Linked DNA regions of Homo sapiens: regions 1 and 2 are each linked to region 3. Evidence: fine-mapped expression QTL. A gene starts in region 3. Each other region holds a variant in brackets. All regions are shown on one strand. Distances are from middle to middle. Region 1 overlaps LINC02197 (long intergenic non-protein coding RNA 2197). Region 2 overlaps BDP1 (BDP1 general transcription factor IIIB subunit). Region 3 holds the start of NAIP (NLR family apoptosis inhibitory protein).

What was found. PIP is the estimated chance that this variant, and not a neighbour inherited with it, causes the effect. A credible set is the group of variants that fine-mapping cannot tell apart.
Region 1: its variant is the best candidate, but not a certain one, in a credible set for the expression of NAIP in whole blood (TOPMed, PIP 0.58).
Region 2: its variant is the best candidate, but not a certain one, in a credible set for the expression of NAIP in whole blood (TOPMed, PIP 0.61).

Annotation. Positions count from the first base shown.
Region 1 is chr5:71,376,872-71,379,641 of GRCh38, forward strand. All of the region lies in intron 2 of LINC02197 (long intergenic non-protein coding RNA 2197), which reads right to left. It also overlaps the pseudogene PMCHL2. Among named protein-coding and RNA genes, the nearest start is that of LINC02197, 68 kb to the right of the region's middle. The variant T/TA (reference allele first, on the strand shown) is at 1,342.
Region 2 is chr5:71,554,827-71,557,596 of GRCh38, forward strand. BDP1 (BDP1 general transcription factor IIIB subunit) reads left to right here. Exons shown (of 39, transcript NM_018429.3): 36 at 2,060-2,099. Among named protein-coding and RNA genes, the nearest start is that of MCCC2, 31 kb to the right of the region's middle. The variant GTCTT/G (reference allele first, on the strand shown) is at 1,208.
Region 3 is chr5:71,023,659-71,026,428 of GRCh38, forward strand. It overlaps NAIP (NLR family apoptosis inhibitory protein), which reads right to left and starts at 1,681. Exons shown (of 17, transcript NM_004536.3): 1 at 957-1,681; 2 at 660-748. RefSeq lists promoters at 1-2,040, 1,445-1,809 and cis regulatory regions at 1,231-1,444, 1,810-2,770.

The DNA of each region.
Region 1 (2,770 bases), 350 kb after region 3:
TCACTGAAACCTCTGCCTCCCGGGTTCAAGCAATTCCCTGCCTCAGCCTCATGAATAGCTGGGATTACAGGTGCCCACCACCATGCCTGGCTGGTTTTTGTATTTTTAGTAGAGGCAAGGTTTCACCATCTTGGTCAAGTTGGTCTGGAACTCCTGACCCTGTGATCCACCTGCCTTGGCTTCCCAAAGTGCTGGGATTACAGGCGTGCACCACTGAGTCCAGCCTATATTCTTGTTTATCAGTTCAAAAATGCTCTGCACTGTTTTTGACTCTTTAAAAATAACTTAGATTCAAATTTATAGTAGAAGAAAAAAAATCTTTCAGATAAGAGGTGTTCTCCAGAATGGAAGAACGACTTGGCATGTAAGAAATAGCGTCAGTGTCCTAATGCATATTGTGACTGTTTGCATATACTTCTGTTTGTAAAAATATCGGTTTTATTTTCAGAGGATTTGTAAGAAACATTTAAATTTTCATTGAAATAAATGACAAGTCATACTGTCACTTAAAAAAAAAAAAAAGACCTTTGTCAAGGAGAGTGCAGTCAACCAGTAAACTGCAGATTCTCAGAATGTTTATTGACGTACTGATTATTCATTCTGTTATACTCTAACATCTGTATATTTTTACCAGTATTCTCAGACCACTTCTACCAAAACATAAATCTGTGATTGTGATCTCTGAAAGTCAGTCCTTTTATCTACTCAAGTAAGTGCAAATTTTAGAAAATAATTTTCCCTAGAAATATAAGTTGTTCTTTTCTTAATTTATCCACTAACTGTTTAGAAATATAATTAGCTTCTAAGATTTGAAAAACGGTAAATTTTAAAAGTCATATCTATTGGTTAAAGTTTAAAATACTTCCAGGAAATAAGCAGAATTGAGTTAATGTTAATTTTATCCAACTAATACTTGAAAAGGATCATTGATTTATATTACTGCCAGCTTAAACCATTTTAATTAATGTACTACTAATCATAACAGTGTTAGTTACAATTTTGTCTTCAAGTACAATAAAGACACATAGATTTGAACTCTTTTGATTATTTTTGGCCTCTTGGTCAATGCCTCATAGTCAAAATTTTAATTAAGATTTTGCACTAAAAGTAAAAAGAAAATTGGGATAAAAATGTGCAGTGTGTTTTATTCATTATGTGGAGGCATCTTTCCTATATCCAAGTTTAACTAATACTGGTCCTCTACCTGCTTAGATTAACTGGTAAGAATTTTATAAGCATTTCTTACTATCTGTTATAAACCAAAAATGGCAATCTTTCCACATTTTGACGTAATAATTTTGAGCTTATTACAAATTAAAATAAAAAATTAAAAACAAATAT[T/TA]ACCTTATAAAAATTCAAACGGTATGTATTGAATATTAATTTAAATTACTGTTATTAATATTACATGAAATACGCATGTTGTAAAATTTTAAATTACTATCTGGTTAAATAAACTATACATATTCTGTAGAGTCAAATCAGATTTTGGCAATGTTGTAGAATTTAACTGAATGCCCAGATGGAGGAACTTGATTATATTATATAAAGGGGACTACAATCCTAGAGTTGGACTCAAGCACAAGCATTTCTCATTATTTTGCAGAAGAAGACACTAAGGTTTTCAGAAATTAAATTGCTTTTTGGAAAAGGTGGGAGATTCTGGGAACATAGAAACTTGAATCCAGTTTTCTTCAACTCCACGTCAAGACAGTTGCATTGTGTGAGAAAATAGCTACGGCCATTTGTGGTAAAATCACATATATGCAATTATGTGAAACTAATTGTGTATATGTATCTGTGTATGTGTGCGTGTACAATATATAAACTATCAATATTTATCAAAGTCCGTATAGCTGCTAGCAATGAGGGGGATCTAGGATTCTATCACATGATACCTTTTTATGAGGCCTTTGTTCTTTCCAGTACATTTGTCAGCTCGTTCATGAAAGAGATTCTTAATTATTTACTGAAATATCACAAAAGTGATGGTGAGCTAGGTTGCCACATTGATCCTGATAGGTCCTTGACAAATTCATATTGACTCTCCACAAATAAAACTATAAGGCAGTTTTTCCCATTGTGATGCTTTTGTCTACAATCTTAATTGTTAACTCTTCCAAAGAATAAACACACAATATATCAATTTTTTAACCCATTTAGGTAGAAATATGGGTATATAGAAAGGAAGAAAGCAAGGTTAACGGTGAGCAGTGGCTAAATGAACAAGAGAACATTCAGTTAAGTATCTCATCTCCAAAATGGTATAAACTGTGGCAGAAAGTACTTTGTTGAATCAATAGTTTCGAGACAGACATACAGTAGGGACATCGAAGGTACAAAATAGAGCACTGATGAAGGAGTGAATTATCATCTTCACAGATGAGTAGAGAAAGAGAAGGTCTAAATATTGAGATGAGAATATAGAAATTTCTGATGCACAACACAGCTCAGAAATTCAATCTGAATATATTCCAATTCAGTGCCTTGCAATAGATCCATAATGATCGCCTATCTTTCCAGCATACAAAGCAATGCATATCATTTAAACATTTTTCTAGCATGAAAATGTGCCTGGGTTATGCAATACACACTTTACCAAAATATGATTTTGGTGGCTGTAAGCACTTAATTGTAATGACCTGTAAAATGAGCAACATTTTTAACTCCGAAATTCTAATCAATATTAGTTAATGAGGTGTGTGACAACTTATAATGCTTTTAAATACTCTTAGTGGCCATCATAATACAAATTTTCCCACTTACAGCATAT
Region 2 (2,770 bases), 530 kb after region 3:
GTGTTTCAAATTTCAGATTTTTTTGAATTTTAGAATAATTGCATTATACTTACATTTGTATTATACTTAACAGTTCCACATCCCAAACCTGAAAAGCCAAAATCTGAAATGCTTCAATGAGCATTTCCTTTGAGTGTCATGTCAGCACTCAAAAAGTTTAGAATTTTGGAGCATTTCGGATTTTCAGCTTTGGGATGCTCAGCCTGTACAAAATTGTAGGATACACATACACTGTATTCAGATAGAAGACATTTTTTATTTTCCATAATCAGATTTATCAGTCTTTTTGTGTATGGCTTCTGGAGATTATGTTATACATTGAAAGTCCTTTGAGACTTAAATTTCCTAGTTAATGTTAATATTACTGATTTGTTGCGAATTTGATTTGGTGTAAGGAATAGGGCCAAGTTAATTTTCCTCATATGACTTTTACCGTTTACTGAATAATTCATCTTATTTCCACTGATAGGAAATTCTGCTTTTATCAGTAAGACAGTAAATCTTCATATTTGTTTGGATATATTCCTAAAACTTCCTTTTCTTTTATGTTGATTCACCTATTTGTTCTGGGGCCAGTATCATCATACTGTTTGAATTTTTGTAGTTTTCTTTATTCTTTTTTTTTTTTTTGAGATGGAGTTTCTCTCCTATTGCCCAGGCTGGAGTGCAATAGCGTGATCTCAGCTCACTGCAACCTCCACCTCCCAGATTCAAGTGATTCTCCTGCCTCAGCCTCCCGAGTAGCTGGGATTACAGGCAGCCGCCACCACGCCCAGCTAATTTTGTAATTTTAGTAGAGACGGGGTTTCTCCATGTTGGTTAGGCTGGTCTCGAACTCCGGACCTCAGATGATCCGCCTGCCTCGGCCTTGCAAAGTGATGGGATATTACAGGTGTGGGCCACCACGCCCGGCCGAATTTTTGTAGCTTTATGATGCACTTTGGTATCTTATAGGGACAGTATCTCTCCCAAACCCATACAATTTTCTTCTTTTTTCAAGTTTCTCCTCATTACTTATATGTTCTCAAATTAATATGAATTTTAGAATTAACTTGTTTAGCTCTTTAAAAAAGAGTTCTATTGGTATTTGTATTTGAATCATATTAACTTAGATTAACTTAGGGGAAATTGACAGCATAATTATAATATTGAATCTTCCTATTCAAAAACATGGTATGTCTTTCCATTTGTTTAAGTCTTGTTTTGT[GTCTT/G]TCTATTTTGTGTTAAACTCTTCTTCATATAAATCTTACACATTTCTTATAGGTTACCCCTATGAGTTTTATCTTTTTTGTTGCTGTTATCATTAAGTTCTTTTCTATTTAGAGAGCTTACTGAGTTCCCTCATTGTATGCAGTAATTTTTCAGTTGGTTCTCTTGGGTTTTGTAGGTAAACAGACATACCATCTGCAAATATAATTTTAATTCTTCTACTTTTTGTAGTTCTAATTTTTTTGTAATTATAGTGGCTAATATAACTAAAAAATAATATTAAAAAGTGATCCAAATAGTGCACATCTTTTTTTTTAATTTCCGATTTTAATAGGAGAACTTCCAGTGTTTATTATGTGGGATGCTAGCTTCTAGATTGCAATAGTTATATTTTATAGTGTTAAGAAAATATCTGTTCCATTTTATAAGTTTTTTTCAAGAATGAATATCATTGGGTACCTTTTCTATAAATACAGATGATTTTTCTCCTCAGGTCTGTTGGTTTATATTAGATTTCATAGTGTCAGATCATCTTTGCATTCCTGAAACGAGCTCTACTTGATTGTGATGTAGTAGTCTTTTGATGTGCTGCTTGTACTATTTCTTTGATACTTTTGCACTGATATTGAGACTGATTATAAAAGGCAGTTAGCAGCTTTCTCTCTTCCAGTGGGCTCTGGAACATTTTAAAATAGTAGCAATATTTTTGCCATAAATGTTTAGTAGAATTCCTCTAAGAGCTTTTTGGGAGATAACATAGTTTCTTTACTTAAAGAAAAAAAGGAAATAAAATTAATTTCAGTTTTACTTGATAAATTTCTAAATTTTTTTTTAAATTTTCTTAAAATAGGTGCACTCAAAGGAATTAACAAATGTTTTTGAGGAAACAGGTAAGTGAAATACATTTTAACATGATTGCATTTTGCTAAATACTCCTGATTATTTGGGATATACCTTGTTCAAATATGAGATTGAAACTGAGTATTCCTTTTCTCCAAGAGTAATACTTGTATTATCAGCACTTCTTTCCTGCAAAGGCCTTGGATTTGGCAGTTTGGTAGGCAAAAGAAGGTCTTTTCATCCTGTCATCAGTTGAAGACTATGTGGCTACAAGGATTTTCTATGTAAGCTCAATAACTACACTTTAGGAGTTAGCTGAATGTAATGGCTTTTTTTCTCCCCCGCCCCGCCAAGACAGGTTCTCACTCTGTTACCTAGGCTGGAGTGCAGTGGCACAATCACAGCTCACTGCAGCCTCCACCTCCCAGGCTCAAGCAATCCTCCCACCTCAGCCTCCTAACTAGCTGGGACTACAGGCATGCGCCACTATGCCAAGCTAATTTTTTTTTTTTTTTTTTTTTTTTTTTGAGACGGTGTCTCGCTCTGTCACCCAGGCTGGAGTGCAGTGGTGCGATCTCGGCTCACTGCAAGTTCTGCCTCCTGGGCTCACACCATTCTCCTGCCTCAGCCTCCCTAGTAGCTGGGACTACAGGCACCTGCCACCACGCCCAGCTAATTTTTTGTATTTTTAGTAGAGACAGGATTTCACCGTATTAGCCAG
Region 3 (2,770 bases):
ATGTGCTTTCCAGAGCAAGGGCAGAGAGTGACGCTCACTGTGGTGGGAGAGGAGACCCTCTGTTCCTAGAAAATCACAACAGCATGCCCCTGTGCTATATCCCTGGTTACTACAGCAGTCTTTGTTCTTGCCTAACAAGATTACTTCCCTGAACTGTAAAACTCCCTCAGTACTGCATACAGAGAGAGGTTAGGAGACATGGTGGTCGTGGATAGGAAATGAGGGAATTATGATAGGAAAGTTGGAGGTCCTGTTGCCGACACCCCTTAGGGTGGCCGGAGGCTGGGGTCAGTCCAGAAGCCTTCGGATGGCACCAGGAGGTAGCCCCAGCCAGAAATCCTCAGTTGCTCCAGGACCTCTTCCAGCCCCACACGACAGCTTGGTCCTCCGTGAAAGGAAACTGGTTCAAACATGGCCAATATGCCCAGCAGCCCGTGGGTATTGGGGGGTTCTCCATGTTCTCCCCAGCAAGCCTGTCCCCCAAAACTTGTAAGGCTGGCAGCCACGCTCATAATTTTTAAATGGCTAATTGGTGAAGGCAGAGTTTTCTCATTCACAGAAGCAGAAGGGGGCCCAGTATTTGGTTTGGTTTGATTCTAAAATGGAGGCCAAGAGCCTCGAAATCAAAGGACAGAGTTGAGGTCCGCCCCTTTACTCACCTTTGCAATGAATGCACCTTGGAATCCCAGACGAAGTCCCCAATATGAAGTGGCATTGTTGTCTGGGGTCAATACCCGGGGTTCGTCGTCTCGCACCAACAAGGTTAAGGACACGATACACACGAAGAGTGGGTTTAGGAGCGGAGGTTTAACACGCAAAAGAAAAAGGAGAACAGCTCTCTCCCTTGTGAGAGAGAGCGGCTTCCGAAAGGAAAATCCCAGGTTCGATCGTTTCTTATAATGGCTCACAGAACTCAGAAACTTTACTTATGTTTACTGCTTTATTATAAAGGATACAGATGAACAGGCAGTCGAAGAGGTACACAGGGCAACGTCCAGAAGGGTCCCAGGTGAGCACAGGACCTTTTGTCTTCATGCAGTTTGAGGTGCATCGCCTTCTTGGTATGTGGTTGGGGTTAACCAAACCGAAAGCTCTCCAAACCTGTGGTTTATTTTTTAATGGAGGTGCCATCACTTAGGCATGATTGGTTAAATCACTGGCAACTGGTGGTTAATCAATCTCCAGCCCTTTTACCCTCTCTGGAGGTCGAGGCGTGGGGCTGCAAATCCCAGACCTCTAATCATGCCTTAGTCTTTCAGGGGATAGCCCCCATCCTGAAGTTGTCTAAAGGATCCCAGCCACCAGTTAGCTCACTGTCATACACTCTTATCACTTGGAGATTCCAAAGGTCTTAGAAGCTCTTGTGTCAGGAACCAAGACCAAGTATTCTAATAAAAGATGTTTCTATCACCCCTGTCACTCAGGAAATTACAAGGGTTTCTGGAGATCTGTGCCAGGAACTGGATGAAGATCAAATATATATATTTATTATATCACAATATTGCAGCCTACTACTTGCCAGGCACAATTCTAAGCACTTTACATGTGTCCACTTAATTCCTTTAACAGTCCAAAATCAGCTATTGCTATATCATCTCCATATTACAGATAAGGAAACTCAAGCACATAGGGGTTAAGGTTAACCAGTGATCTGGCTAGTCTGTACTTTTACCTGATGTTGTGCTGCCATACAGACTAGATATATTTTTTTTTTTTTTAGACTGAGTCTTGCTCTGTTGCCAGGCTGGAGTGCAATGGCGTGATCTCAGCTCACTGCAAACCCAGCCTCCTGGGTTCAAGTGATTCTCCTTCCTCAGCCTCCCCAGCAGCTGGGACTACAGGCACATGCCACCTCGCCCAGCTAATTTTTGTATTTTCAGTAGAGACAGGGTTTCACCATGTTGACCAGGATGGTCTCGATCTCTTGACCTCGTGATCCGCCCACTTCGGCCTCACCAAATGCTGGGATTACAGGCGTGAACCACAGCACCCAGCCAAGACTAGATTTTTAAGAAAAGGCAATCCAGATATCCTAGAAGGTTCATTTCCTCTTTTTGGTGGTTTAGCAAATTTCTTAGTAAGGCTTCTAGCTGTTATAGCAGCATTAGTATGTGAACCACAGTTAAGCTCTAGTCCAACAAGGCCATTTCTTCAGCAGAGAAGCAATTGTTAAATAATCGACCAAGTATTCATTGGCTCCCTCTTTTTGTATCAACATACACAATTGTTACAGTGCCAGTGTTTATTGGAACCACTTTCCATGGTGCATCCAGCTGTGCCTAGACCAGCAGGTCTTTTTCCAGAAGTCCAGATGGCAGGGGAACCTCTTCACGTTGTTGACCCTTCTCCCTGTAATTTTTTCCCCAATAAACCTTTTCATTATGTTGCTGTATTTATACCCAAATACACATTACATTTATTTTAGTACCTTGTACATTTTGTTGCCCTTATAAATTGGAGGGGTTTTAAAAACTATTTTTTATTCTCAATATTCATTGATGATGTATAGGACTCCTTCTGGACTGTTTAATATATGACTGTAAATCCCCCTGAATTTTCTTAGATGTTTGTAGTATCTGATTATGACAGTTTTGTCTTTTATTTATTGCCTTGTTGCATTGATTAGGTCCTCTAATATAATGTTGCTTAATAATGAAGATAGATATCCTATCTTATTCTTGACTTTTGGTATAAATTCTTCTAAAGTTTGAGCATTAAACATGATGTTTGATGTAGATTCTTAGTGGATACTCTTTAGCAGTTAAAGTAA